4 linked regions of the Homo sapiens genome follow. The protein of the gene in region 2 interacts with the protein of the main gene of each other region in a biochemical or structural test. Each region holds a gene or a part of one and is shown on either strand. Other genes may lie near its edges. The genes, in order: DHX9, EIF2AK2, TARBP2 and PRKRA.

Evidence for each region.
Region 1: the proteins of EIF2AK2 (region 2) and DHX9 form a complex in vitro, tested with the Homo sapiens proteins (2 studies listed by BioGRID, with this or other methods).
Region 3: the proteins of EIF2AK2 (region 2) and TARBP2 form a complex in vitro, tested with the Homo sapiens proteins (2 studies listed by BioGRID, with this or other methods).
Region 4: the proteins of EIF2AK2 (region 2) and PRKRA form a complex in vitro, tested with the Homo sapiens proteins (3 studies listed by BioGRID and IntAct, with this or other methods).

The regions. Positions count from the first base shown.
Region 1 is NC_000001.11:182,877,347-182,884,365, forward strand, and holds part of DHX9 (ATP-dependent RNA helicase A), read left to right. Parts: intron 1-674; coding exon 675-827; intron 828-1,903; coding exon 1,904-2,064; intron 2,065-3,150; coding exon 3,151-3,262; intron 3,263-3,917; coding exon 3,918-4,079; intron 4,080-4,173; coding exon 4,174-4,301; intron 4,302-5,792; coding exon 5,793-6,022; intron 6,023-6,173; coding exon 6,174-6,289; intron 6,290-7,019. UniProt on the Homo sapiens protein: Multifunctional ATP-dependent nucleic acid helicase that unwinds DNA and RNA in a 3' to 5' direction and that plays important roles in many processes, such as DNA replication, transcriptional activation, post-transcriptional RNA regulation, mRNA translation and RNA-mediated gene silencing.
Region 2 is NC_000002.12:37,153,964-37,161,913, forward strand, and holds the start of EIF2AK2 (interferon-induced, double-stranded RNA-activated protein kinase), read right to left. Parts: upstream 3,018-7,950; 5' UTR 2,945-3,017; intron 1-2,944.
Region 3 is NC_000012.12:53,496,911-53,504,282, reverse strand, and holds the start of TARBP2 (RISC-loading complex subunit TARBP2), read right to left. Parts: upstream 3,001-7,372; 5' UTR 2,875-3,000; coding exon 2,822-2,874; exon of another isoform or gene 2,744-2,821; intron 2,698-2,743; exon of another isoform or gene 2,575-2,697; intron 2,269-2,574; coding exon 2,099-2,268; intron 1,257-2,098; coding exon 1,154-1,256; exon of another isoform or gene 1,071-1,153; intron 571-1,070; coding exon 475-570; intron 1-474. UniProt on the Homo sapiens protein: Required for formation of the RNA induced silencing complex (RISC). Component of the RISC loading complex (RLC), also known as the micro-RNA (miRNA) loading complex (miRLC), which is composed of DICER1, AGO2 and TARBP2.
Region 4 is NC_000002.12:178,448,167-178,455,877, reverse strand, and holds the start of PRKRA (interferon-inducible double-stranded RNA-dependent protein kinase activator A), read left to right. Parts: upstream 1-4,702; 5' UTR 4,703-4,847; coding exon 4,848-4,912; intron 4,913-5,120; exon of another isoform or gene 5,121-5,434; coding exon of another isoform or gene 5,435-5,466; coding exon 5,467-5,636; intron 5,637-7,711. Other genes in the region: PJVK (pejvakin), read right to left, coding at 1,351-1,546, 2,258-2,447, 3,309-3,434. UniProt on the Homo sapiens protein: Activates EIF2AK2/PKR in the absence of double-stranded RNA (dsRNA), leading to phosphorylation of EIF2S1/EFI2-alpha and inhibition of translation and induction of apoptosis.

The sequences.
Region 1 (7,019 bases), on a different chromosome or scaffold from region 2:
CTGTGTAGATACAGGAATTACATGGTAATTGATAAATTGAAAGGACAAAAAAGTTGAAACTTGGTTATATCTGGCCAACTTGTACCCCATGACTTCTCTTTATAATTCCTTAGTCTGTCCTGACAATGAAAACAATTTGCTGCCAACATCCATTTTAGGAAATGATGAATAGCATTCTGTGCCAATCCCAGTCATTTAGTGGCAGCTGTCTCTGTATGTAACATTGAAGGAATCTGAGGTTACTTGGGGGTTCAAATGGACCACACAGGCATCACTAGATACAGATATCCTAAAAGTTACACTAAACTTTGGAATAGAGATGACTTAAATAATTACTTTCTTTTGTGTATGTGCCATATTCCATTTAAATGCTTTGCATTTGTTAATTTATTTAATGTTTACCAAAAAAACTATAAGGTAGATAATGGCATGCAAAGTTTGGCCAAGGCAGTTCAGCTGATAAGTGGCAAGTGGATGTTACATTGCCTTTTAGTAGGTTGACAACTAGGAGTTTGCAGTCAGATTGCTGATTCTTACTTGTGCCATTCATGAATAGACATCACAAGTAGGTATGGCTTTAACTACATAGTGGAAAGCATTCACTACTTAGTGGATATATAATAGTTATTGATAATACACATGAGTCTTAGAATTAACCACTTTTTCCTATGTAGGCAGAAAGTGAAACTCTTCACTGCTCACAACAATATGACCAACTATGCTACCGTATGGGCATCAAAAACAAACCTTGAGCAACGGAAAGGGCGAGCTGGCCGAGTACGGCCTGGATTCTGCTTTCACCTGTGCAGCCGAGCTCGTTTTGAGAGGTAAGACCCATTCTTGACCTTTAGTAAGGGATTTTTGTTCTGTTCTCTGTAGGGACAGATGTGTGCAGTTATGTAAACCTGCCAATATAAGCTGATCTAAGTCTTGCCAGCCATGTTGGAATCAGGTGTAAATGTTTCGTAAGAATCTTCATCACAAATCATTTAGAGAATAAGCCAGATTTAGAAATATAGAGACCTAGATTTTAATATTATTTGTGCCTAATACATTGTATAACACTAAGTGGTTACTCCTTAGGCCTGCATTTCCCTCATTCTATAAAATATTAAGTTACTTAACCTCTCTTGTTTCCTCAGTTGTAAAAAGAATATAAATAATGCCTAACCCATAGGGTTGGTATAAGTATTAAATGATTTAATAATGTAAAATACTTTGAACAGTGTATGGCACATCATGATCTCCCAATAAGTGTTTGCTGTTGTTAATTTATACAGGTCAGATATCTCTTTTAAAACTGAAATGCTTGGGACCAGAAGTGGTTTTGGATTTTTTTTCTTGGTAATATTTGCATTGTATTTACCAGTCGGGCATCCCTAATCTGAAAATATGAAATCCAAAACGCTCTAATGAGCATTTCCTTTAAGTGTCATGTCAGAAGTCAAAAAGTTTTGGATTTTAAAGATACATCTATAAGAGCCTTTCTAGTGGCACTAAAATTACATGAACTAGGAAGGTGGGAGGTTGTAGAGAAATGTTAGTATGAGTTATCATCCTACAAAAAGTCTTGTTGTCGTTTTTAACCCATGTTTGTCAACAGGCAAGGCCTGAAGAGACCATGGGTGGAGCTAATAACATTCGCGATTTTGGATAATTTTTTCATTTTTCTTCTCAGCCTAAAAGGCTATCAAGCTGTGAGGATAAGTCAGAAACCACTATGCAACCAGATTAAATTTTGTCAACAGTGTGTATAGTGAACGATAAAAGGTCCGATGGTAATTGTAAAATAAAAGGATGAGGAAAAGGCAGCTCTGTATCCCTGATTACCTTGCTGCAAAAAGTTTATTAACATCTGTGTATACACAAGGAGGATGGTTATTTTATGCTTATTTTCTCTTAGACTTGAAACCCACATGACACCAGAGATGTTCCGAACACCATTGCATGAAATTGCTCTTAGCATAAAACTTCTGCGTCTAGGAGGAATTGGCCAATTTCTGGCCAAAGCAATTGAACCTCCCCCTTTGGATGCTGTGATTGAAGCAGAACACACTCTTAGAGGTACTTACAAATACAAACCTACTTGACGCAGATATTAATCATACCATCTGTCTTGTTCTGGCAGATAACACTTACAAATGAATCAAGATGATGAAGATGTAGTCAACAGGGCTGTGATAATAATAGTAAGGCCTCCAGTCTTACCTTAGATAGTTAGTATAGTCACTGTTCTAATGAGCAATGAGAAGGAAGAAAGGGACAATGTGAGTCTTTAAAAAAGAAAAGAAAACTTAAAAAGGCATCTCTTAACTATGTACTAAAGATCAGAACATAACTTACTCATGATACCCACAGTATTTCATATGAATCTCTTACAACTTTTTTTGTTTTTTTGAGACGGAATCTCGCTCCATTGCCCAGGCTGGAGTGCAGTGGCGTGATCTCAGCTCACTGCAACCCCCACCTCCCAGGTTCAAGCCATTCTTCTGCCTCAGCCTCCCGAGTAGCTGAGACTACAGGCATACACCACCACACCCGGCTAATTTTTATATTTTACTAAGACAGGGTTTCACCATGTTGGCCAGGCTCTTCTGAAACTCCCGACCTCAAGTGATCCACTCACCTCAGCCTCCCAAAGTGCTGGGATTACAGGCAGGAGCCACTGTGTCCAGCCTGGAACATTTATTTTTTCTTGCTAAACTTGTTAGAGGTACAGTGAAAATTAAGGGCATTGGAGCTAGATCTGAATTTGAATTTTGAATCTAGCATTTATCTACTATGTAACTTCAGAATTTTCTCTAGATTTTATTTTTTTTAAAACATTAACAGCTGGGTATCAGACTTCTTATGGCATGTAGAAACTTACGCTGCTATTATAGTTAATACTGTATTTATAGACTTCATATGAATTGTATTTGTTTTTATAACCTACAGGATTTAGTTGTAGTACCTTTATGTTGGGTGCTCCAGATTTTGATTTTGTTCTATTTTTGAGTACAGAGAATTGTTGGCCGTAGACATGGTATTAGCGATTGGCTTGACAAAAGAGGAACTCTAAACTGTCTTAACCTTAATTTAGAGTAATGTTTTGTCTGCCTAAAATTAGTGTTCATTTGTTTCTGCTCACAAAGAACTATCTCCCCACAGAGCTTGATGCATTAGATGCCAATGATGAGTTGACTCCTTTGGGACGAATCCTGGCTAAACTCCCCATTGAGCCTCGTTTTGGCAAAATGATGATAATGGGGTGTATTTTCTAGTAAGTGCTTTGTTTTATTTCTCTTCGTTAAGTGGCAGAATAATTTCAGAATCTTCTCCTCCCTGTAAAAGCAGTATTGGCTCAGATAGACAAAAAAAAAATCCTAAATGTTCTTCAGGGAAGTAACATACCTAGATATTGAGAGCAGTGTAACACTAAAAAAATGAACAGTTCCAGTAGGTGGATATCTGGGCCCAATATGGGGAAAAGGGCACTGATTTCTCAAAAGTTAAAAGCAAGCAGGCCAGGCAATGTGGCTCACACCTTGAATCCTAGCACTTTGGGAGGCCAGGGTGGGAGGGTCCCTTGTTATTAATAGTTGGTCTTGAAAGAGCGGTGTCAGGAAAAGAGGTTTATTTTATCAGAAAATGTTGAAGATTAAGAGATTTGGTATGATGGGGAAGAGAGAATATAAAAGGAAAAATATACTTGGTCATAATTTATGATAAATATGTGGCCATTAGAGCATCAGAGCATTTTTTTCTTTCTGATTCTGAAGAGAGCAGCTATAAAGTTCTTTGTTAAGCCAGTTTCATTGCAAATAAAAGTAGAATCATAGCCATAAAGACTGCAACCCACAGTCGACAGTCCTACCTGAGCTGCTGGCAACAACATTGTGATCTAGTCTGGATTTAACTGTCTTTGTGTATTTCAGCGTGGGAGATGCTATCTGTACCATTGCTGCTGCTACCTGCTTTCCAGAGCCTTTCATCAATGAAGGAAAGCGGCTGGGCTATATCCATCGAAATTTTGCTGGAAACAGATTTTCTGATCACGTAGCCCTTTTATCAGTATTCCAAGCCTGGGATGATGCTAGGTATGAGTAAGATTTGGGTGAGCTGTCTGTAGTTTCTCATTTGTATTTAGTTCTCTGGTCTTAGAGAATGATTTCTCATGCCAATTTATTTTAGAATGGGTGGAGAAGAAGCAGAGATACGTTTTTGTGAGCACAAAAGACTTAATATGGCTACACTAAGAATGACTTGGGAAGCCAAAGTTCAGCTCAAAGAGATTTTGATTAATTCTGGGTTTCCAGAAGGTAAGACTTCTTCCATTCTTAAGATATCTTTAAAGTGACATTTATATAGTACATGCAAATTGACAGCAAAGTGTATTTTAGTTTCAAATTTTAGACCCTATGATTTTTATATATTCCCGACTATTTCTTAGTTCTCGTGAACACTGGTCTAGTTCCCAGAATGAGTACTTTGCTGATAACCTTATAGTGGTTTGCAAAGTAATTTATTAGCATTTAGACTTGAAGTAAATTCTACCACATTAAATTTTAAATGACTTTAATTTATACTTTCGGTGTACAGATGATTAAAGGACTTTATGACATCTAACATAGAAAAAAACCAACCCATGTTTCTTGATGAGCTGTAGTACTTTTCTTTTCCAACTAGGTTAAAATATAGAATTACTTCCTAAAACATTGAGAACTGGAATGCATAACCAGAAATAAGACTGTTGAGAGACAGAAGGTAGTTGGGCAAGATGGTAAATTTTTAAAGGCTGTAATTGGAATAACTAAACAAAGTAGTGAGTGGTTCTCTTCTGTCATAAGCCAGCCGAAATTTTAGTTTTTCCTCAAAATTATAAGAAAGGGAAAACTTCATGTGCTAGAATCTTGAGATGAATTTTACAGGTAATGAAACAGGCACCAAGGTATAAATTGTCTTTAATTCATCCAATTAGGAGGCTATAAGACTAGAACTCGTTTGTCTAGAACAAAATATGTCTGTGCTTTCAGCGGTTGACTGTCATGCTTTCCAGTCAGTAGCTAAGTACTCAAAGTGTAGACTGGGTAAAAACGTCAGCCTTCATTCCAGTAGGTGTCCTCTTAGATTATCTCCATCTTCTCTACAACTAACAGCTATTTAAGAGTAGCAGATAAATACTTTGTGGTCCTATCAGTCAAGCTCTTATTCTCAGAGTAGATGGTTGATTGGGGGACTTTAAAAAGTAATCACCCCGGCCGGGCGCAGTGGCTCACACCTGTAATCCCAGCGCTTTGGGAGGCCGAGTCAGGTGGATCACGAGGTCAGGAGATCGAGACCATCCTGGCTAACACGGTGAAACCCGTCTCTACTAAAACTACAAAAAATTAGCCGGGCGTGGTGGCGGGTGCCTGTAGTCCCAGCTACTTGGGAGGCTGAGGCAGGAGAATGGCATGAACCCGGGAGGCAGAGCTTGCAGTGAGCAGAGATGGCGCCACTGCACTCCAGCCTGGGCGACAGAGCGAGACTCGTCTCAAAAAAAAAAAAAAAAAGTAATCACCCCAAGCTTATTTATGGTTGAGTCTATAAGAGAATAGAGACGTTTTCGTTTTCTTATTGTGGAAACTCAGTAACATTACTCCTTGAACTTAATCTGGGTGTAAGGATTCTGAGAAGAGAAAGTTTTACAGACAGGTTATGTGAAAAGAGTGAGGAAGAGTCAGTTCTCTGAATTATCTTAAATAGTTTGCATGTAATGTGAAGATCAGCCAGTTATCTGATTTTTGTTTTCACTGTGCTCCTCTTAACAGATTGTTTGTTGACACAAGTGTTTACTAACACTGGACCAGATAATAATTTGGATGTTGTTATCTCCCTCCTGGCCTTTGGTGTGTACCCCAATGTATGCTATCATAAGGAAAAGAGGAAGATTCTCACCACTGAAGGGCGTAATGCACTTATCCACAAATCATCTGTTAATTGTCCTTTTAGTAGCCAAGACATGAAGTACCCATCTCCCTTCTTTGTATTTGGTGAAAAGGTAAGAAAAGACTAGAAAAGTTTACATTGAAAGTTGAAATTGTCTTTACAATCATTAGGAACATGAATTTTGATTTTCAAAGCACAGTATATAGCGGTATTTGGAAGTTGGAATGTCAACCATTTTGTATTGTCTCTTTCTCCATTTGCAGATTCGAACTCGAGCCATCTCTGCTAAAGGCATGACTTTAGTCACCCCCCTGCAGTTGCTTCTCTTTGCCTCCAAGAAAGTCCAATCTGATGGGCAGATTGTGCTTGTAGATGACTGGTATGGATTTTCAGATGTGAACTCCAAACTGAATTCTTAGAATTACAATATGATGGAATTCAGCTGCTAATCTAACTTAATTATATACTAATTATATCTAACTTAATTATATACTATATACTTAATCTTAAATTGATACCAGTAGAAGCAAATGCATTAGGAATTTGAGCCATGTCTACCACTAGGCACACCACCACTATGGAATCAGAATCTAAGTGAAGCTTGAGTACCCTTTCACATACTCTGTATATTGATTCAAAACTAGTGGTAAGCACTGGGCAAAAATGGAATAGAGCTTAATGGACAGCCAGTAGGCTCAGCCATCATATTCTTGAAAACCTAGAAAATGCCAGTATTCTGGGTCTCTTAAATTCATTATTTTAAAGTCTGGATGATCTGGCTGGGTGCGGCACATCACTTGGGCTCAGGAAGTTCAAGATCAGCCTGGACAACATGGTGAAACCTGTCTCTACGAAAAATCCAAAAAAATTAGCCCCGTGTGGTAGCGCACACCTGTAGTCCCAGCTATTCTGGAGGCTGAGGCAGGAGAATCACTTGAACCTGGGAGTTGGAGGTTGCAATGAGCTATCACGCCACTGCACTCCAGCGAGGGCAACAGAGCAAGACTCTGTCTCAAAAAAAAAGAAAGTCTGAATGATCCATATTGCTGGACTTTGTTTTTTGTTTATTATATATTGCATATATTTTTATTATATTTTATTTGGCTTGA
Region 2 (7,950 bases):
ACATCCTCACCATCACTTGTTATTATCTGTTTTCTTTTTTAATACAGCCACATCATGATCTTTTTAAAACATCAATTCAGTGGCCAGGCGCGGTGGCTCACACCTGTAATCCCAGCACTTTGGGAGGCCAAGGCGGGCAGATCACCTGAGGTCGGGACTTCAAGACCAGCCTGACCAACATGGAGAAACCCCATCTCTACTAAAAATACAAAATTAGCCGGGGTGGTGGCACATGCCTGTAATCCCAGCTACTCGGGATGCTGAGGAAGGAGAATCGCTTGAACCCAGGAGGTGGAGGTTGCGGTGAGCTGAGATCGTGCCATTGCACTCCAGCCTGGGCAACAAGAGCGAAACTCCGTCTCAAAAAAAAAAACAAAAACAAAACAAACAAACAAAAAAACATCAATTCAATCATGCAGTCTCCACAAGCCACTGAAATTGTTTTTGTCGAGGTTACCAATGGCTTCCCTATCACTAAATCCAGTAGTCAGTTCTTAGTCCTTCTCTACTTGACTTACAACCAGCATTTGATGGGGTTGCGCATCCTCTTCGCCCTCCTCTCCCTGTCTTAGCTTGGACTTTTAAGACACCCACTCTCCTAGTTTTCTTCTTTTGAGACAGAGTTTCGCTCTTGTTGCCCAGGCTGGAGTGTGATGGTGGCATCTCGGCTCGCTGCAACCTCTGCCTCCCGGGTTCAAGCGATTCTCCTGCCTCAGCATTCCGAGTAGCTGGGATTACAGGCGCCCACCACCACGCCCGGCTAATTTTTTATATTTTTAGTAGAGACGGGGTTTCCCCATGTTGGCCAGGCTGGTCTCAAACTCCTGACCTCAGGTGATCCACCCACCTTGGCCTCCCAAAGTGCTGCGATTACAGGCATGAGCCATGGCACCTGGGCCTGGTTTTCTTCTGTTCTGACAAGCTACTCCTTTTCTGTCTCCTTTCCTGGTTCATCTTCAACTTCTTTTCTTCTATTTTTTTTTTTTTAACCTTTTCTATGGTTCTAACTTCCTCTTTTCTAGATATTCTAGCATCACTGGGCCCGGTCCTTAGACTTGCTCTTTTCTACTTGGACTCACTCCCCTGGTGATCACCTCCAGGTTTGTGGCTTTAAATTCCACGGACACAATGATGGTTCTCAAAAGCACGCTTCCACCATGGACTCTCTCCTGAACTCCCAACTGCCTCTGTCCAACCTGCTCCCTCCTAAAATGCCCTTGACTCTATTCCTTCTGCTGTCTTGGCCTGGTCAATTTCTACTTCCTACAGATTTCAGCTCAAAATCCCAGACACTCCTTCACAGGCTCTTCCACAGTGCTCATCCCCTTTATTAAAATTGCTTATTTAACTATTTTCCAAAATAGAGCATGAATTACTACAGGTAAGGGACCAGGCTCAATAATGAATGAGTGAGTACCAAAATATCTCCAGATACCCCATCCAGGACTTGTCACCTGCTTTTCTCTACATTTATAGTGCAATATCTGCATTCTCTCTGTACCCACCAATATCCACTCATCTATCAGGATCAACACAGCCTTCTTTGATGCTGGAGGGTCAGCTAGTATGGGCTTGCCACTCCACCTTGCCCAACCTTCAACACAGCCCTGACTGCTTTTTAAACTAATTAGTGAGCTCTTTGGGGAGCAGATTCTACATCTTATTCACTCATCTGGAAGAAACCTCCATCATAATCACTAAAAAATAATATTTGTCCATCTTACTAATGCCCAGAAATTATTTTGGCTATGCCTCCACTTCCTTTCCAGCAGACTACATACAGCCTGGCCAACACGGTGAAACCCTGTCTCTACTAAAAATAAAAAAATTAGTTGGCTGTGCTGGCGGGCACCTGTAGTCCCAGCTACCTGGGAGGCTGAGGAAGGAAAATCGCTTGAACCTGAGAGGCAGAGGTTGCAGTGAGCCCAGATCGTGCCACTGCATTCCAGCCTGGCGACAGAGTGAGAATCTGTCTCAAAAAAAAAAAAAAAGAAAAGAAAAGAAAGAAAATGTCACCAGGTGATAACTACTATGTTGACAACCGAAGTAGTGGAAGGGGGAACAGCAAGGGCAGAGCGGGGTTTCTTGTATAGGCAGGTTGTTTGAGGAAGGCTGCTCTGATAAGCTGGCATGGGAAGCAGTGCAGGATAAGGGAGGGATTTCCCCATGCAGTTATCTGGGGAAGAAGCTTTCCAGAAAGAAGAAACAAGCAGTGCAAAGGCCTAGAGGCTGGAGGATGCTTGGCTGTGCACCAGGAACAGCAAGGAAGCCAGCGTGGCCGGAGTAGGGGGTGCGAGGGGCCTTGCCTGTGAGCCTTAATAAATGTTTATAGGATTCTGATGAGACAGGAAAGCTACGGGGAAGGTCGGAGCAGGGGAGAGTCTGGTTCTTACTTAAAGGAACATTCCAGATGCTGAGGTGTGGAGAAGAGGTAGGGGGTGGAGGTTCAGGGGTGAGGATACGGAGTGGGAACAGGAACTGCGGCCAGGCAATTGGGAAACTACTGCAACTCTCCACGGAAGAGATTTTTAGCCAAAGATTGTTCAGCCAGTCTATGAGTATTTCAGGCCTCCGTATTTTCCATGTGTCAAGCCACTAGGCCTATTCGTCTTCCACTAGACCCCGCCCCACAACTGCTGCCTGGGAAATATTTGTTACTTGCACTGATAAAAATTCTTCACGGGAAGGAAATGGCTTTCAGTCCCCACCCCGCTCCACGATCCTTTCCCTGGATTTGGGGAGGGCCCCACACCCGGGCTGCGGACCTGGGCCTGCTCTCCCAGTGCTGACCCAGCCGGGGCCAGGGGCTTCGGATCAGCGTCCGCGTCCTGAGCTGGGGACGCAGGATTGGCGAGTCCCGCCCCGGCTGGGCCTGCAGCCCCTCGTACGTGGCCCCCCGGCCCCCGCTCCCCGCGCTCCCTCGGCTGCCCCCTGCCCTGCTCACCTGCGCCGCCGCCGCCGCCGCCGCCGCCGCCGGCCGGAGACCCGCGGCTTCGGGAGAGCTGGTTCTCAGTTTCGTTTTCCCCTTGGACTCCGCCTTCCCTGCAGCCGCCCGGCCCCCTCTCGCACAAGCCCTCGTCTGCTACGGGATTGGGGTAAATTGGCGCTGGATCCAGAGTGCGCGCGAGAGGCACTGGCGGGCGGGCTTGGCACCGGCGGGCGGGCTTGGCACCGGCAGGCGGGCTTGGCACCCACGTGCTGCCCCTGCACGGCCAGGACCCTGCACCCCCATCCCCCGCCCCCGGGGCTCCTAGGGTTCTCCGCTGGCCTAGTCCGCTGGCCGCACTAGGTTCTCGAATCAAGGGTTCCACTTACTCTCAACACAAATATTTGGGGTGGGGTTGGGAAGATGGATCTTACCAGCTCCATTCTACAATAGAGGAAACTGAGTAAATGAACTCACCCAGGGGTCCTGCCGCTCGTAAGTGGCAAAGCCAGGATTCAGTTCAAGTCGGGGCCTGTAAACACCAAAGCACTCTTTCCCTCTTGCCACACCGCGGCCCCCTCACCTTTACAAGCCTGGGGATCAGAGGCCTGGGGGCGTAATCTCCTTCACTCCGCTCCCACCCATCCATTCATTCATGAGCAGACACTTGCCAGCCGCTGTAAAAGCACCTGTGGGCCAGTCCTGCTGCTAAATAGAGACACCTGCTTCCTACAGTACCCCAGGGAGCTTCCTACCATAGTCCAACACCAGTAGTCCTCGATTTATAGAAATTCTACTCACCTGATGGACTGCGACACACTCCCAGAGTCACACAGAGTTCCAGAGTTCATTGGCACAGTGACTAATGAGTATTGAGGCACAGAGAATTTGGATTAACACAGGTAGTAAGCAGCGGAGTTAGAATTATAACCAGGAGTTTGTACTCTCAGTATCTTAGCTGGGATAAGAGAGGAAGGTGGTCCAAAGACAGACCTCAAATATACATTAAATATTATGCCTAGGCCGGCGCGGTGGCTCATGCCTGTAATCCCAGAAATTTGGGAGGCTGAGACGGGCGGATCACCTGAGGTCAGGAGTTCAGGACCAGCCTGGCCAACATGGCAAAACCCCGTCTCTACTAAAAAACACAAAAATTAGCTGGGCGTGGTGGCAGGCACCTGTAATCCCAGCTACTCCAGAGGCTGAGGCAGGGAGAATTGCTTGAACCTGGGAGGCAGAGATTGTAGTGAGCTGAGATCATGCCACTACACTCCAGCCTGGGTGACAGAGTGGGACTCCAATTCAAAAAAAAAAAAAAAAAATTACACCTAGGCAGGCATCCTCTCCAGCCTCCCTTCTCCATCCCCCAACAACCCCACATTGCAGGGTATCAACAACTAAAATCTACACTTTCCTTGTAGCTCTGGTCCTGGGCATAGCTTAAGTCCCCTATATGTAAAGCACTGGCGGGAGGTTTAGAAGGTAGACATGAGGCAGAGCCATCTTTTTGTGGCATTTCCAGGTGACAAGAAAACTCTGACAGTGCTGTGTGTCCATTTGTCAGCTTTGTGGGTGTGGGATGGCTGTGGCAGCAGCAATGGCAGTAGCAAGGACAAGTTTTTCTGACTTTTTGAGCCCCTGAACTGCCCAAGAGAGCTTAAAGAATGAAAAATGGCAAGCTTAAGCATGATCAGAGGACACACGCTTTTATGACTGTACCAGAAAACCCTCCTATTTCAGGGAGCCTCAGGGGTGATGTAAAAATCTGCCTTCTCTGCTGGGGAAAGATTTGGAAGGAATGATATCAGAGGGTTGGTGATGAGGTCCAGGGGAATGATATGATATGGGTGAACCTCTTGGAATGGGTAAAGTGTGAGCATATTGGACTCCCTGAGGAGCCCAATTCCCTACTGTCTGGGCTCTCAGCTGCAAAGCTTGGTGCTGCAGGCACCAGAATTACAATATAATTGTTTTGAGACAGAGTCTTGCTGTGTTGCCGAGGCTGGAGTGCAGTGGCACAATCTTGGCTCACTACAACCTCTGGCTCCCGGGCTCAAGCAATTTCCCTGCCTCAGCCTGCCAAGTAACTGGGATTACAGGCGTGTGCCACCGCACCTAGCTAATTTTTGTATTTTTAGTAGAGAAGGGGTTTCACCATATTGGCCAGCCTGGTTTGGAACTCCTAACCTCAAGTGATTCCCCCACCTCGGCCTTCCAAAGTACTGAGATTACAGGCGTGATCCACCGCGCCCAGCCTAGAATTACAACAAAAATTTTCATTTGCAGCCTCATCAGGTCTCTTCTGTGAACACTGAGGGCATTGATTGTGAAAGAAAGAAGCCCTGGGAATTTGGGTGGATTTGAATGAATCCAAGTGCCACTGCCCTCCTAAATTCTGCTGTGTCTCCACAGGCTTCCCACCATTGTCTGATAAGGCTGGTACAGCCTACATTAAAAAGCATGAAACAGTCACCCTGCAAGGAGGTGCTGATTCTCCAAATATCCTATCTCTACCTGTGCCTTCACTCCTAGAACTAGAATCAGATGCTAATGCGCCCCAAGAGGATATGGACAAGATCTGATGGAGGGGTGATGCTTTACACAACAAAAGAGCAACAGAAAGCAAGAAATAGACATGGCAATGAGTCTAAAGATGACGTGAAGAAAGCTGAAAGTTGAGGCTGAGCGCGGTGGCTCATGCTTGTAATCCCAGCACTTTGGGAGGCCGAGGTGGGCGGATCATGAGGTCAGGAGATTGAGACCATCCTGGCCAACATGGTGAAACCACGTCTCTACTAAAAATACAAAAATTAGCTGGGCGTGGTGGCATGTGCCTGTAATCCCAGCTACTTGGGAGGCTGAGGCAGGAGAATCGCTTGAACCAGGGAGTCGGGGTTGCAATGAGCCAAGATCGTGCCACTGCACTCCAGCCTGGCAACAGAGCAAGAAAAAAAAAAAAAAAAGAAAGAAAGTTGATGTACTGCCTCTAGCAGTGGGAGCGCTAAGCCAGTTTGCCCAGTTGGTTTACTATAATATCAGCTCAGTGGCAGCTCACACTAAATGTAAATGTAATGCCAAGTAATGCAGATGAAGAAATCAAAAATACTTAGGGAGTCAGGAATATTGGAGTAGATTCATCTTATGCAACCTAGTCACTTACTTCCTAACCATGGACCCCAAGAAGATCCAAAGTCCCCTCCTTCAGTGGCTTATACAGAGCCAGTGGCTGGCAATGCAGCTGATGTTCAGAGAGTTGGAAGGAATGATATCAGAGGGCTGATGATGAGGTCTAGGGAAATGATGTGCTTGAACCACTTCGAATGGGCAGAGTGTGCATATTGGGCTCCCTTTTGAATGTTCACCAAAGGCAACCACTTCTAAAGAGGCTTTTGAGAAGCAGTTGAGCAAGAAGACTTCTGTTAGCCTTTTCCCCAGCTATCCCTGTGCTTGTTTCAACAAATAAAGAGGCTGTGACAGCAGGAATGGAGGATATGTGTGAGTTTATCCACATGGGCTTCTCAGGCCTTACTACGTAACTCTTTGTGAATATCAGTATGGTTATTGACCTATAGTCAATCCCATAAGTCTATCTCTTTTAATACAGTGACTTTTAGATCAAAATGTGTAATGCTAAAGCAACGAATCAGACACAGATAGAAGAATCGTATGTATCAATTATTCTTAATTCTCTTTTTACTAGCAGAGGAAAAATAATAACTGTTATTCCTGCTTTTGGAAATTGTAGAGTGGTCCATATTTATGTTGTACCATATCTCTTGTGGCTCTTTTCCTCAGATGTTTCTGCTTTAGTAATTTGTCTTGCTTACTTATAAACTCTTCTTGTCAATAGTCCCCACATGCACATTATTATAAAATCATCGCTATGGTCTGAATGTTTGTGTCCTCCCTAAAACTCATAAGTTAAAAGCGAATCACCAATGTGATGGTATTAGGAGGTGTGGCCTTTGGGTGGTGGAACTGGTGCTCTTATAAAAGAGGCCCCAGAGATCTGCCTTGTCCCTTTCATCATGCAGAATACAGAAAGAAGGCCGGGCGTGGTGGCTCACGGCTGTAATTCCACCACTTTGGGAGGCCGAGGTGGGTGGATCACTGGACGCCAGGAGTTCGAGACCAGCCTAGCCAACATGGCAAAACCTTGTCTCTACTGAAAATACAAAAATTAGCTGGGCATGGTGGTGCATGCCTATAGTTCCAGCTACTCCAGAGGCTGAGGCAGGAGAATTGCTTGAACCTGGGAGGCATAGGTTGCAGTGAGCTGAGATCATGCCACTGCACTCCAGCCTGGGCGACAGAGAGAGACTGTCTCAAAAAAAAAAAAAAAAAAAAAGAAAGAAAGAGAAAGAAAAGAAAGAAAGAAAGAAAGAAAGAAAGAAAGAAAGAAAGAAAGAAAGAAAGAAAGAAAGAAAGAAAAAAGTCAAGCCCAGAATCATCAAGGGCTTACAAGACACTATATTTCCTGCACCCTGGTTGCCACTTTAACCTCGTCTCTTGTTTCTCTGCCCCTCTTTCATTCTCCTCTAGTTACATTGTCCTCCTTGTGGTTTTTCAAGAATGCCAGGTATACTACTGTCTCAGTGCCTCTGTACTTGCTCTTCCTTTTGCCTGGAACCTCATCCTTCAGATATCTGCAAAACTCACAGATCTTGTTGAAACGTCACTTGCTCACGAAGCCCCCTGACTACACTATTTAAGTTCCAATCACTACTGTCACCCTGTTGTCACTCCCTATCCCCCTCATTCTATTCTATTTCCCCTCCATGGCACTTACAGCCTTCTATTATACAATACAACTTATTGATTTATTGTCTTTGTTTTCTCCTTCCTCTGACATGTAAAGTCACATGGACAGGGATTTTTGACTGTTTTATTCGCTAATTATTTCATTGTCTAGAATAGATCTGGGCCAAAACTGGGCTGCTGCCTGTTTTTGTAAATAATGCTTTATTAGTGCACAACCACATTCATTCATCTATATATTGTCTATGGCTGCTTTGACACTAAGA
Region 3 (7,372 bases), on a different chromosome or scaffold from region 2:
CGGGTGGGGAGCTGTCTGTCCACACATCTAGCCTGCTCCTCCTGCTCTAGCCGGCTTCCTTCCCCCTCCCACTCAAGGGAGGCCTTCTCCAGGCCCCAGCCCATTTCCATTCTGGAACACTTGGGTATCATCTAAGCCAGGACAGTGGGAGAAGAGCTGTATTTCCAGTCCCAGAAGTGCCTGATGGGCCTCAAACACAGAACTGACATGTGGTCAACCCAGAAGAAAATGGGGCCTGCAAGACCCTTAAACATGGTCGGACATCATTCATAAGGCTGTCTGAAAATCACAAATGACCTCTTGTCCCAAGAGCTTACCAGCTGCTGTGATTTCTTCAAGTTCTGGTTCCCAACTATTCCATTCTGTTTATTCTCAGACTTCCTCATGCCTGACCAGCTTGGGTCCAAGGACTGAGGGACCAAAAACCAGAACCCCTTCCTCCACCCACCTCAGGCAGTCAGGGGACACAGATACCTGGTTAGGACTACAGATGGAACTGGGGTAGCAGCTGCTGCAGCAGTAAAAACCGGAATGTCCTCAGGCAGTGAAGAGTCTAGGGGAGAAAAAGAACTTCCCGAGGGGAAGGGGGCCTTTGATTCACACCCATGTATAGGGGGAAGAGAGGGGTGGGGGACCCACGTCCTCCTGACCTCCCAATCCCCTAAGAGAACTTCCAAATTGAGCCAAAGAATCAGGGAGGCTCAACCAACAGCTTCCTCCTCGGATCCTTTGCTGCCAAACACCGGCGAAAAGACTGAGAAAAGAGAGTCTCAGAGAAGAGGGTATCTTTGTACCCAAGAACCAGAGGAGCAACAAACTCCAACCTGCGCGTGAAGGAAGGACATCTTGCTAGAACAAGGAGGTATGTTGGGGAGTAACTCCCTTTAGCCTCAAGCCTCTACCCCTCTCCCTCCCTAACCCAGGCCCCAACCTACTGCCACAACCCCTCTATGGGGCTAACCAACCCCTCCACCCCAAGAATTCTTCATAGCAGCAGAAGCCCTGGAAAACCCTGTTCAGGTCCAGAGGGACTCTCAGGAAGAGGCCAGGTCAGGGTGGCTAAGTGTCACCTGGCCAGGCCTCGGGGCAGAGTGGGTGGTGCAGGGCCTGGGTTCCTTGAAGGGCTTCTGGGATGCCTCGGTTCCTCCCTCACCTGCTGTCCTCCAGGGCCGGCTCCAGCATGCTCCCCCCTTTGAGGTGTTTGAGGGCCACCTCAGCTGCCTTGTGCTTGGCTGCCTTCTTGCTGGGGCCCTGACCTGAGAGAGGGGGCATGGGCAATACTGGAGGTCACTGAAAGGACGGGAAAGAAACCAGCATCCCACAGCCTCTCTCCTCGTAGCCAGAGGGAATCAATCAAGCCCCTTCTGACCAACCTCCCCCTGCTGAAGACTGGAAGTGTTTCACTAATTGCTGGAAGGAAGAGCCCTTATCTTTCCGTTAGCTTCCAGAATTAAGCCATGCCAAGCAGGACTTCTGAGCTCAAACGCCTTGGGTGGACTTCTGAGCGCAAATGCTTTAATTTCCTTTGCAAAGCACTTTCTTTTCCCTCAATAAATACAGAGAGCTGGAATAAGAGAGGGTAGGCTCTGGAGTAAAAGCCCCACTCTGCCACATACTAGGCATGTGACCATGCACCAGCCATTTACTATCTCAAACACTCAGTTTCCTCATATTCAACATGGGCGGGCGGGGGGAGGAGTCGGGGGGGCGGATACTACCACCTACAATCATTGGTTAGACTGAGGTTTAAAATTAAACGGGAATTTGGTTAAGCACCGGGAACAGAGCCCAGCACGCCAGGCACTCACTCCCCCAAATACTCCACTGGGATTTCAGTTATCTTCTCTTACTTTTCCTCTAGGGTGATGGGGATCTGCCAGATCACTGTGGGAGTCCTGCTCGCTCCTCTAACTCTCCCACGTCCTACCCACCTTCTTACAGCCCTGTTCTCCCAATCCAGTCAGTAGCTTTTCCCCTGAAATCTCTCCTTCCCTCACTGGCCTTGGAGAAAAGGACTGTGAAGAGAGAGACTCCAAGAAACAAAGCCATGGGGACCTGCAAATGCACACCCCAGCCAGGCTGCCCAAGCCTTCCTCACCAGTGCAGCTGGTGTCGCCAACGGTGACCCGGAAGGTGAAATTAGGCTGGTGGGCTTGGCCCTCGGCTTTGAGAAGGTCGTACACAGGCGTCTTCCCTATTCTGGTCCCATACTCCTGCAGAAGGCTGATCGGGGTCTTGCCTGGGTTGGCGGCCAGCATTTGCTCTATACTGGGGGAAGGGGCACAGACCCACATCACACCTCCCCTCTCTGCACCCACCTAGCCAAGCACTTCCATACCAGACCTAGGCACATTATGGGGGACATAGGGTCCAAGGAACCCCAGACAGTCTAGCATCCATTGGCTGGGTTCCAAGTGGAGGTGCAGGCTGGAAAAGTAGGGCCCACTACCCCAAAGCAAGGGGGGAAGAATGCATTGCTCCTGCCTCAGTTAAGGTGGGCACGATCCTGTGCCCCAATGCAGGTTGAAAGTGCATACCCCCTGACACAGTGCAAGCCAGGAACCCAGTACCCACCAAATGCACTGAATGTGGGGGCATAAAGCCCAGTGTTCCAGTGCAGTCTGGGAACCGGGCCAACCCCAAACTATTTAGAGCTGGAGGCAGCAGCCACTGCCCCGGTGCACGCCGGGAACCACTGCCCACTGCCCCAGTGCTTGCCGGGAACAACCCTCAGGCCAGGTGCATGCTGGGGCCGCGCCGCTACTCCCTCCGCACGGCCCCACGCTTTTCGCCCTGAAGGAATCGGTACGAGACGGCTCACCTAGGCAGCCCGCAGCCCGTGGTAGTGCCGGAGCCTTGCTCCTCTTCACTCATTCCCTCCTCCGTCCCCGCGGGCGCCACCGTGACTGCAGCCTCCACGCGCCCCAATACACAGCCGACGAGCTAGGGCCGGGGCCAAGCCCGGAGTCGCGGCCGGTAGGGCCCGCCGCGGGGCACGCTGGGATATGGAGTCCCCCGCCCACCCTACTTCGTGAGCCTCCATCTGGAGGGGAGCTATCCGCCCCACAACCCTCTGCGTGCGTGGCTCGCCCGGGCAGGCTGCACCGCCTTCTGGGAGGAGCGGGCCCTCCGCCGTCGCTTCTCGAGAAGGCCGTATTTTTTTGTTTGTAATACCGTCCCGCCTCCTTCCTTCCGCGCCCCCTCTCTCCCGGTCCGTGAAGCTGTGGACATGCGTACTAGCGGAGGGGAAGCCGCTGGGTAGGGAGGCGGTAAGGACTCACTTGGGCACGGAGCCTTTTGGATCGCGAGAAAACTACAGAACCCAAGAGCCCGCGCGCCATCTGTGTCGCAGCTGGAGAGGCAGGGTCAAGCACGCACGAGAAGCTTCATGGCGTCATTGGTTACTCCCATTGCGATTACTTCCCCTAGGTGCACTGAGATTGGTTACTTCGACTAAAGGGGCGGAGACAAGGAAAAGTCAGCCCCCCCCGACCCCGCCTCCTTGATGAAGGAAGGTTGTGATTGGTCCGGAGAGGCTGCCGTCGGATCCTGGCTCTTTGCGGTCTGGGAGGGTGGGCCTTACCTAGACGCCGGAGGGGACCGATCTCTGTTTCCGCAGGGCTCTGGAGCTGGTGCAGGTTTAAGTCCGTCTCAGACAGTCCCCTCAACCCACAGCCTAAGCCCCTTGCCCTTGGGCCTCCGTGACACAGAACTTGCTTCCTTTTCCTAGGTCGTCCTTCACCTCCCTTCAGGTGTTGCTTCTTTTGTGAAACCTTTTTAGAACCGCTCTAGTGAACCTCTCTTTAACTGGCGAGGAAACCTCTGGGGCCTGATAATCAGGCTGTAATGTGGGACGACAGGATTAGAAGGACTAGGCACCTTGGTGGTCTTGTTCCCTCTTCCATGAGTCTTGGGTCTCTCAGCTGAAGAGAGCAAAAGTGAATTTTGGCCGCCTAAGATTAATCAACTGATCTGGGTGTTGAGCAGACGCGCATTGTTTAGTCCTAGAGCCCCATTGCCTCCTCCCCCAAAGTTGCACAACCACTGGGCTGAGGGAAATCTTGTGACCTTGGAGAGAGAAAGGGAGAGACCACATTAAAAAAAAAAAAGGTTCTAATGAGTGTTCTGAGAAGGGGTCAAGAAAGATGTCTTACTCTGAGCCGGGGTTGGAGGTCCAGAGGAATCTTGAAATGATAATGAGGGGTCATCCAGGAACACTGGAGGAGGATGGGGCCTAGAGCCGAGTGAATTCCAAGTGGGTGAAATTGGAGTGAGTGGTGACAATCAAGGGAAGGAGAGCTGGCAAGATCGGTATGATAGGGGGAGCAATGCCAGAGCGCTAGGGATCCCAACTGAGGGGCTGCTCTCTCCGATGTAGAAAGGAGTCTATAAGACGGGTCATAGGGGGTTCCTGTGGAATCAGCCTGAGGCCTGAGGTGGGACCTCCATAGGACACCGCCAGCAGGGAGGCGCGGGGCCCAGGCGGGCCAGGTACGAGCCTGGAGCGCGCCGGATGGCAGCAGCGGGCTCCTTTAAGAGGCCGGCGGCTCCATCGCAGCATCCCCCGCTCAGGGCGTGTCCGTCCCGGGGGGCCAGGGGCGGGGGCCCTGGAAGGAGCGGGAGTTCAAGCCGAGCAGGGACGGGGCTAGGGGTCGGGGGGTGGGGGCAGAAAGCTGAAGCTGACACCCGTGCATCCGGACACCGCACGAGCATCGCCTGTGACAGCGCCCCGGGTCCGGTGGAGGGCAGCGGGGGGAGGAGGGAAGGAGGAGGAGAAGGAGGAGGAGGCGGGAGCAGCATCCGGAGCGGAGCTGCAGCAGCGCCGCCTTTTGTGCTGCGGCCGCGGAGCCCCCGAGGTGAGAGCCTGGCCGAGTTGTGGGGGGGTGGGGGGCAGGGATGGGTCTGGGTCCTGGGATCCGGGCGTGGAGGGAGGGTCGGGATGCAGATGTGGCCTGGTGCGGGGTGATGGCGTGGGGATGCTGAGGCTGTGGGGATGGAGGAACTGGGGACCTGGACCCGACGCCTGTGGGGCTGGGAAGGAAGGGAATGGAGCGGAGGGATGCCGCGGCCCAGCTTGGAGACGAAGGGCCTCCAGAGCTGGAAAGGACCGTATTGGGGTGGGGTGGAGGATGATTGGGGGACAGACTTAAAGGACAGAGGGCAAGAGAACATCTCCTCCCACTCATCCTCAGGAAGAGAGAGAGGGAAGGAGGAGGGAGAGTTTTGGCCCCCTCTAGGGAAGGAAAGGAAGGGCAAGGACTGATATACCCACCATCTCCACACACACACACACACACACACACACACACACACACACACACACACACACACACACACACACACACACACACACACACACACACACACACACACAGCAGGCTGGACCTGAAGATTAGTCAGAGAGCACCTGTTCCTGCATGCCCAGGCGTTGGTCCCCCTCCCCTTCAAGCTGTGATCCTCCTAATCCCCTCCAGCTGTGGCATTCACCTCCAGCTGTGGCATTCACCTCCATCCAGCTGTTGCATCCTCCCCTCCCCCATTCACGTGTGGGTTTCTCCCTCCTCTTTCTCTCCATCTCCTCTGGCTCCCCTAACCCATCTCCCCCAGTCAGGCCCTCCAAAAACCTCCTCCCTTTCCCACAAACACTCCTCAAACTCATTGGCTTAAAAATAAACAAGAGTTGAGACTTGCTGGTAACCAAGGCCTTGACTGAGAGGAGGGAAGAGTCAAGGCTCTGTAGACAGTGGGAGGAAACAGTGAGGTGTCCCTTAGAATTAAGGGAGGAGTCCTACCTTGTAGATGCTCATCTGCTGCCTTTTTCAGAGGAGCGTAGGTGAGTGGCCTCCAATCAGAAGGGAGTGCACATGAGGTCTCCTCACCCCACCCAGAGTCGTCTCAAGCCACAGTCAGTGCATCCCTCTAAACACATTTCCCTTGCAGTTCTCAAGGTGGACTCCATTGCTCTAGGAGCTCTGAGTTTCAGCCAGAGGGTCCTACCAAGCTAAGGCTAACAGAAAGGATTTAGGAAGGATAGGACTCAAGTGCCCCCTGAGCCTTCCTGTCCAGACACTGAAGTTTCTCTGAGCTTTAGGGCCCCACTCCCTCCTATCTCACACTTACAGGTGAAAAAAAGTGTGTCCCCTCAAGCGTATCATTCATCCACTCACTCCCATTGTCAACTGGGGTAATGTTAGGAAAACCCCAGCTCTCAACATGGAGACACCAGCTAAATATCCATCCCAGTTATGGACAGAGGAGGCAAGAAGTTAGACATGGCTCAGGATTTCCTAGGCTTCCTTATAGCTGAAGAGGGCAGAACCCTTCTAAAAACCAATTGCTTTTCCCCTCGTGGTGACACTGTGGTAGGATCAGGCTTTTCTAGGAAGAGGACTCTTGGTTCTACCACTCACAGCCCGGACTCTCGTAATGCACAGTCCTCCCTCTCCCCTGCCTGGATCTGGAGAGAAAGAAGGAATCAACCCTGTAAGAAGTCCTTGCTAGGGTGGACTGGAGATCACCCCTACATTCAGGTCCTCAGCCCTACACCAGTCAAGCCCTGGGACCCCCAGCTGCCATGCTTCTTCCAGTGAGGTGGAAATGTCTGCCCCTCACGCCAGCCACTCATGCATTCACTCACACTGTTGACTGAGGTGATGCTGGGAAGAAGGAGGATACTGTTGAGATGATGCCAGCAGGGGACATAGGGGCTTCATGAGGGCCTGGCCACAGAGACTGGTCTGTCTGGTTCATTGGCTCCCAGAAGGACTGGGGTCATATGTGTGCGTGGAGAAGGTGAGGAGACTGTGACAGTGACCAGATTCCAGAGGAGGCTAAAGATCATTCAGGATAGAGCCCTTGCCCTTTGGTTTCTTCATTCTTTGGTCTTTTTTTTCCCTCTTGTTTCTCCACCTCCCTTTCCACCCATACCCTCCCTACTGGCACTTGCTTTGAGAGAGAGAACAAGGGAAAGAAGGGAAGGGAATCACATTCATAAAAAACTTACAAGTGTGTGTTAGGCACTTTCCATATGGCTAATGCTTATAGAGAGCTTCCTGTGTGCCAGGTCCTGGGCCAAGAACTTTATTTTGATTTTCTTAATCATGCCCGTAACAAGACCAAGTGAGATAGTGTTATCATCATCTCTGATGGAGGAGAAAACTGAAACTTAAGTAATTTGTTTAAAGTAAAAAAGTTAGTATGTGGCAAGAGGTAGGATTTGAACCCAGGTCTGTGTAACCCAGAACCTGTGTTCTTACCCACCACATTATGTACTGCATTGCCACTGTGGGACATAGGTACCACTGTCCCCGTTTAGCAATGAAGAAACTGAGGTTTGTTGAAAAGTCTCAGGCCAGGTCACCCAACTGGCCAG
Region 4 (7,711 bases), about 140 Mb from region 2:
AAATACACCCAAAAGAAATGTAATAATTTGTCTCTCCTCTCTATTTTCTTAAAACATGCTTATGCAGAATGTTTCACTCTGTCTGTTGAAAGTCTGTTGAAGGGGACTCTATTTGTTGCAGACAGATTGCTGTATTATTTAAATCTAATAATTAAGCAAATGTGTGTAGAGCCAAAGTAATTTTGTGGAACAATTAAAAGTTTTGTTTAAGCCAAGTGGTTTTTTTTTTTTTTTAGCTGGGCAAATCATTTTAATGTGTAACAGTAGGCCAACTGGGGAGGACAAGACCCCAAGCCCCAGCCTTTCTCCTGATGCCCTGGGACCTGTGTGCCTGGGCCAGTCCCATGCCTGCCCCAAGCCCTGAGGCCCACAAGTCCCAGAGAAGAGTGGGAAAGAAAGTTGGGTGGTTGCAGCTCAGCCCCAAGAGTTCAGGGAGGGAAAAACAGGGGCTAGTTGAATTTAGCCTTGGAAAAATCCATCTCCGGATGCTGATCCATGAACTTCTTCAGAATCTCCTGTTTCTTCTGTTCGTCTGAGGTTGGCAGCCCCATGGACTTCTGTTACTGGTCATAGATTGTCTTTTCCACCATGATGTGAGTCTCACTGTCCAGGTCTGACAGCTTGGAATTCTCAGGGTTAATCTTCTTGGTATTGATCTCAGGGTCACTGGACACCAAGCGGCTCCACCACTCCATCTTCTTGATCTTCTCCAGATGCACAGTCACCACCTTGCCGTCCTCAATGAGCCACGAGCTCTCCTCCGCCTTCACTTCGTTGTAGAGCTCCCCATCGATGATCGCTGGCTGCCCCTTGAGCCCCACCTGGAGGTGCCGCCGTTGGATGCCACCACCACGTCCTTCCCTTTCAGCTGGAAGTCCACACAGAAAGGGACCGCCAGGTCCAGCTCCGACAGGGTCTTGGTCCAGCGGTAATCAGGCAGGTCTGCCCTGTTGCCTAGGTTGGGCTTCAGTTTTCCTTTGTCCTTCTCATCTTCCTCCTCCTCATCTTCCTCAGTCTTCTGCTTCCCTGGGGAGTCAAGGCTGCCATTCTTGATCTGGGCCTCATGATTCTCTGCATCCTATTTCTGGTCAATCTCTAGCTGCAGCCTCTCTGCCTCTTCATCAGTTAGCTCCTTGATCTGGGGCCCTGAGGTCTCTGACTTCAGCCAAGTGATTTTTGATATCTATCCTTATTCAAAGTTTGGATATACTACCAATGTATTTCAAACATATCTAGCAAATTACACTAGTAAAATACAACCTCAATGTTTTAAGCATTCTTTGTAATGAAGTTTATATACCTAAAGTATTTAATGAAAACACTGAAATATATTAGGATTATTATACTGACCGTGTAGTAATTTCTTTGAGTAATGTTGATACTTCCACTTCATGTTTGGTTACTATACCAAATGAAGCTTTCACTGCAATGGAATCTGATCCAGCAACGTTAATCCCAACGTCATTTACAATATGGTTACCTCGCCTTCCATAGAGTGAAACATCTGATTCATCTTCATAATTCAGTAATTGATAAGATGAAATACCTTTATAAGAAGAAACTCAGTATTTTTTAAACATCTTTATCTTATGTAGATTATATATAGTAACATGTTAAATTAACAATTGAAGACTCAAATACCCAAATGTTAGAGAAAGGCAACATGACTCACCAAGACTTAAAGTAGTAATTCAATTAATCTTACAACAAAAAGAAACACATAGCCAGAATTCTTAAAAGGAACTCAAATTTTCTATTCAGCCAACAGAACTTCTTAAGCATCAAGATCCACCGGGCAATTAAAAGAAAAAATAAGCGTTTATAAGTAGTAACTCATCAAAATATCAGCTTATTATATAACCTACCCTTCAATACATTTCAGTTTACCAATTGTAATAATTGAATTGTAAAAAATAAATACAAATTATTTTCATCTCATTTGACCATGTAACATAGGTAAGCCCAAATAATATCCCATTTTATAGATGAAGAAATATGTCATATTCTAAGTTGATTTGGTTAAAACAATTTATAAAATAATTGATAGATTTGAAAATTATTTGACCAATAAGAGATTTGATATTATACAAACTTTTGGCATTGTTAATCTTAATAATGTTATTACACTAACATCATAATAAAAGTTGCTTTAATCATTGAAAATGTGTATTACTAACATAAGTAGCATATATGACCTATGTTTAGGTTGCCAATAATACAGATGAATGAGTTGGCACTCCCAAACATTTAAACTTACCAGCTGAAATTTCTCTGTCTCCTAGGAGAATATCTTTCAGTGTAAAAGGTGTTGAAGTAAATTTATATCTAGGAAACAGAAAGCATCGCTTCTTTTTTACCACCAGACTTAGAGGTTGATATTTGTCAGCTTCACTGAGGCTTGGAACAGGAACTAATCTCCCTCCATCTCCAACTTGCTTGACAAAGCTCTTGGTAGCAGCAGCAAACATATTAAAATCAAAACGTCATCAACTGCAACCCCCAGATAAATCCATTTTTAAAGAGGAAAATCAGGCACAAAATTAAGCATTGCTTGTTTTTAAATATAATTATACATCTTAAAAATACAAAGCATGGTTTCACCAAGTAGTTTACCACTGTATAATTCCCTGCCTCTGCTCATGTGCTCAGGTAATGAATTATAGATCAACGGTGTAAAATGATATGCTAAGAGCATGTTTAACTTGGAATGGCAGGCTATAGCACTAAAATATACACAGAAAACTAATAACGTAAAAATATGACCAATGTCTATGATAAGGATCACAGTAGATAGTGATTTGCCACTGGCAATGGGCCAATTTTAAGGGAAGCATATAGTGCTGTGGGAAGCAATGCAATTTAGGCACTAACGATAGTCCCGGATACAATCTACAGTGGACCTAGTCCAAAGGGAATTCCTTCACAAGTCCACCACCGGAATTTTGGCAACACCAAAGTGCTGTTTTGAATCCTCATGGCATACAGCTCATTGATTGAGCATTTCATTCATTTTCCATCTTATATGCTTACAAAACTGTGTTTAATATTAAATATAAATTCACAGATATAAACAATTATATGCAAATCTTTATTTAAAAAATAAAGCCACATTACATATAAGTAACTATATAAACTATTACCTAGTGGTTTCTTACTCTGAAGTTGGGCACACAGACTCTCTCTCTTTGAAATGGAGTCCTGCTGCATCTTTTTGTTTCATTATTATCCCAGCTACTTAACCTTTAACAAGAGCTATATAAAGTTCTGGCCTGTTTTTAAGTAATTTTGTGGCAAAAAATGAATTTTACCTGAGTGCTGAAATGTTTTGCCATAGGTGTTATGCGGAGTTCATATATTGTGAAATACTGACTATGTAGCCCTTCCAATAAGATATCCATTAAAACAGTGATGGATAGTAATCTATATACATACATATATAGACGGAGAGGAAGAGAGAATAGGCTCTAATTAAAGCATCAGATGATATAATTTGATTAGATTCTGAACATCTTTCACTTGTTTCAAGCATCCAGGGCTTACATGCTAACAAAACAACAAATCGCTTTTTTTTTTTTTTTTTTTTTTGAGAGGGAGTCTGACTCTGTCGCCCAGGCTGGAGTGCAGTGGCGCGATCTCGGCTCACTGCAACATTTGCCTCCCGGGTTCAAGCGATTCTCCTGCTTTAGCCTCCCGAGTAGCTGGGATTACAGGCGCATGCCACCACGCCCGGCTAATTTTTGTATTTTTAGTAGAGACAGGGTTTCACCATGTTGGCCAGGCTGGTCTCGAACTGCTTACTTCAGGCGATCCGCCAGCCTCGGCCTCCTAAAGTGCTGGGATTACAGGCGTGAGCCACCGCGCCCGCCCATAAATCACTTTTAATAATATCCTTTCGTACGAATAGCATTGTGCAAGCAATCTTCCATAACACCGAGTAAGCACAGGGGAGCATTTCTGCTAGTGCCTAGCAAGCCCCTGGAGAAGCGACACGTCATCTAATGGCCCACCAAAGGTGCTGCATCCCAGGCAAACGCCATTACAACCGACTACCCAGGTCCCCGGAAAGGCCTTCGTTTACTCCTAACGTGTTTTGCTGGGATGCACTGACCCAGCGTTCCATCTCGCGACGAAAGCCCAGAAGACAAAGGAGCCCGCCCGGCGGGAGAGGAGCGGGTGTTTGGACGTCCCCGCGTGTTCCTAAACACAGGGCTCGGGGACCCGAAGAGCGCACCGCAGCCCCCTGGAGCGTATATATCCGGGGTCTCAAGCTTCAGGACCAGGCCCGGGAGACTCCCTGGAATTCTGCCTTCGTAATTTTAGAATCTTTTTCTTAAAGTGACCCAGCCCCCAATCCGTCCTCCCCACAAAGGCTTAACTTTAGGCCTCAACGACCCTAGACCCACGCCGGACAATCCCTCTAATCCCTCTCTCCCGGCAAGAAACGGCCTCCTGCTAAGGACAAAGAACTGCGGCCTAGGGGCCAGTTACTACAGGCTGGTCAGGGCCGGCAGGGGCGGGCGCGGAGAACCCCCGGGAGCCCAATGCCTGTGCCCACGCGGGAGCGGGGCGGAGCCGGGCGGGAAGGGGGCGGACCCTGGAAGGGACAGGGGCGGAGTTGGGCCGGGACGGAGGCCCGCAGAGGAGCAGCGAGGGGGCGTAGCCGGAGCTACGGCACCAAGGCTCCGCCCCCACCCTGCCTGCCCCCTCGCTGGAGCAACGCAAGCAGGAGGCGGGGGAGTCGGAGGAGGTGGCGGCGCTGGAGCTCCTCCCGGGGACCAGCGACCCGGGGAGCGAGCACGTCGCTCCGCACCGCTCTTCCTCCAGCCGCTGAGCCGTCCCTTCTCGCCATGTCCCAGAGCAGGCACCGCGCCGAGGCCCCGCCGCTGGAGCGCGAGGACAGTGGGACCTTCAGGTCAGCGTGCGGGCAGTCAGGGCCCCAGGGCCGGGAGCGTTGGGCGGCAGGGCCGGGGCGCGGGGAGCCGGCCCTCCAGAGGCATTCTGGGTAAAGCCGTGCCCGGCGCCCACGCCTCCGCGGCTGTGGGTGCTCGGCCCCGCCCTCTCGGCGGCGAGGGTTGGGGTCTGCGGCCGGGCCCCGCCCCTCTCGTGGTCCCTGGCGGCGCGCGGGGCGGGCGGAGGTGACGCTCGGTCGGCGCGCCCGGGAAGGGATCGTCAGGTTTTCCCTGAGAGGCTGCGGCGCTGCTGCCAGCCCTGTTCTGTTGAGAATCTCTCCTACCCGCATTCAAGTGCTCTCTCTAAAGACCTCGCTCACCCCGCCTGCTCCTGCGGAGTGACTGCCGCAGCGGGGCCGGAAGACAGGTGCGCCCCAGCCTCGCCAGCTCTGGCCCTGGCCTCCGGGGAACTCGGCGCCTCCCTCGTCACCGTCGGTGGCGGTTAAAACTGGCCTCTACGCTTCTGCTTCAATCTCCAATTTGGCATGCAAAGCACACCTTTTTGTGGTTTTTGCAGTTTGGGGAAGATGATAACAGCTAAGCCAGGGAAAACACCGATTCAGGTATTACACGAATACGGCATGAAGACCAAGAACATCCCAGTTTATGAATGTGAAAGATCTGATGTGCAAATACACGTGCCCACTTTCACCTTCAGAGTAACCGTTGGTGACATAACCTGCACAGGTCTGTATACACAGTTAACCTGGATGACCGAGTGGGTTGGCAGTCAATACTTGGTGTTGCTTTTCAGTTCGGAAAAGTTCTCTTTTTGCCAGACAGCTGTGAGGAACAGGCTCTGAAACTGAGACCTCTCATCTCAGGTCGTTAGGGCTTTTCAGCTGCATCTGATTCTCTTCCTAATTTTCTCTTCCCCACATACCAAGGAAGCTTAGAAACTAAAAAGTTACCCAGCCGGATGGCTGGATCCTGCATGGCTCTTCTCATACCCTAGGATCCTCCTAGGGTTCTTCTTAGAATTAGAGGGAAGCAGGAAAGGTTCTTGGAGCAGTCATAGCTGGGTCAGTAGGTACTGTGAAGTTTCATAGATTATAGCGGATGCCAGGAGGCATGACCCCAGAATTTTCTGAGCGTCTCTCCTCTCTGTATGGACTCATTTGGCACTTTAGGTCCATTGTGCTACTTTTGATTCTGTATCCAAACAAAATGAGGAAGGGGAGAAGGTCCTCATATATTACATAATAACTTCTAGTTTTTGAAACTGAACAGATATTTTGTATATTATCCACTTTTTAAACAAGAAGAAACAGGTTCAGAGAGATTATAAGTAACATGCGTATAGCAATGAAGTCACAAAGCAATGAAATTTTAAAGTTCATGCTTTCTTTTGGTCTGTGAGCTTGAGCAAATGATAACTAAAGTTGCTCATTTGTAAATGTGGACATTATTTTTCTTATGTATCTATTTAATTGCAAACACAGAAAACATTGGATGCTAAATTTAATTTGGAAGAATGCCAAGAAAAAAATTTAGTAGGAAGGCTCAAGTTCTACCATCTGGAAAATCTGAAGACAGCATTTGTTTGTGTCCCTGGAAGTTTGGAGTCTTTTATTTTAATTGATGCCACTTTAAGAAAAGTTTAAAACTTTTTGTGTGAGGCAGTTAGATTGTAGGTGCTGGCCGGAAGGGTCCCCATGGGAACCATAGAGTCAACACTGCATTACTTACTTTAGCTAGTCTATTTCTAGATAGGAAGAATTCAAGAAAAGGGAGGGTTTTTCCCTCTCAATGTGTTTTAGACCCCAAATTAACAACCTATGGCAACCGTTCTGCCTACGCCCTCTTCTCACACTACCATGGCTTCCTGTGCAAGCTTATCTGCCTCCATGGCTTCTGATACTGTCTAAAGACTAATATTCTGAAATGTCTGTCTACATCCCAAGCCCAGTTACAGAATAGTGTATCAGTCTGTGCTTGCTGAGCATCTTTGCCTGGATGACACAGAGGCCCCTCAAGCCTCTCATTGTCCCAAACTGAATCCATCTTTTCCCTCAAACCCATTCTTCTTGCATTCCCTTTCTATGTAAAGGCTCCACAATCACCTAGTTCAGTAGAAATGTAGGCTTTTGTCTTCCTAACTACTTCCCGTCTTTCTCCCTCTTGTCCAGTCTGTTATTAAACTCTATCCATTGGCGTTTAATAATCCACTAACTATCCATTGAATCTGTCGGCTTCTCTCTTCTGGCCATTGCTACTGCCTAGGCCACCATCATCTCTCACTTGGATTGTAGCTGCAGTCTTGTAGCTACACGTTTACCTTCTAGTCTTGTGATGTCCTTTTGTCACATTACAACCAGTGTTCATTCTTTTTTTTTTGAGACAGGGTCTCACTCTGTCACCCAGGCTAGAGTGCAGTGGCATGATCTTGGCTCACTGCAACCTCCGCTACAGCCTGCACTTAGGCTTGTTGTAACATATCCCATTCCATACTTCAGGTGCCTATTAACAGACAAAAATCCCACACTACTCTGTTGGCTCTTGAGGGCAGGGACCCTGTATGCTATATCCCTAATACCTGTGTTAGCAGATAAATATATGGTTTCTGTGTCTTCTTACACTTGAGGGCCACACTTGAAGGCCACACTTGAAACTTATTCCATGAGGGTATGGGAGTTTGAACTTAAAAGGAAAAAGATGGAATTTATCATTTGCCATTGTGATTGCTTACTGAAATTAGACATCAGTCTTATCCCCAGTCCCAACTTAGCTACCCATGCAGAAGATACAGACCGTCCAGAAGA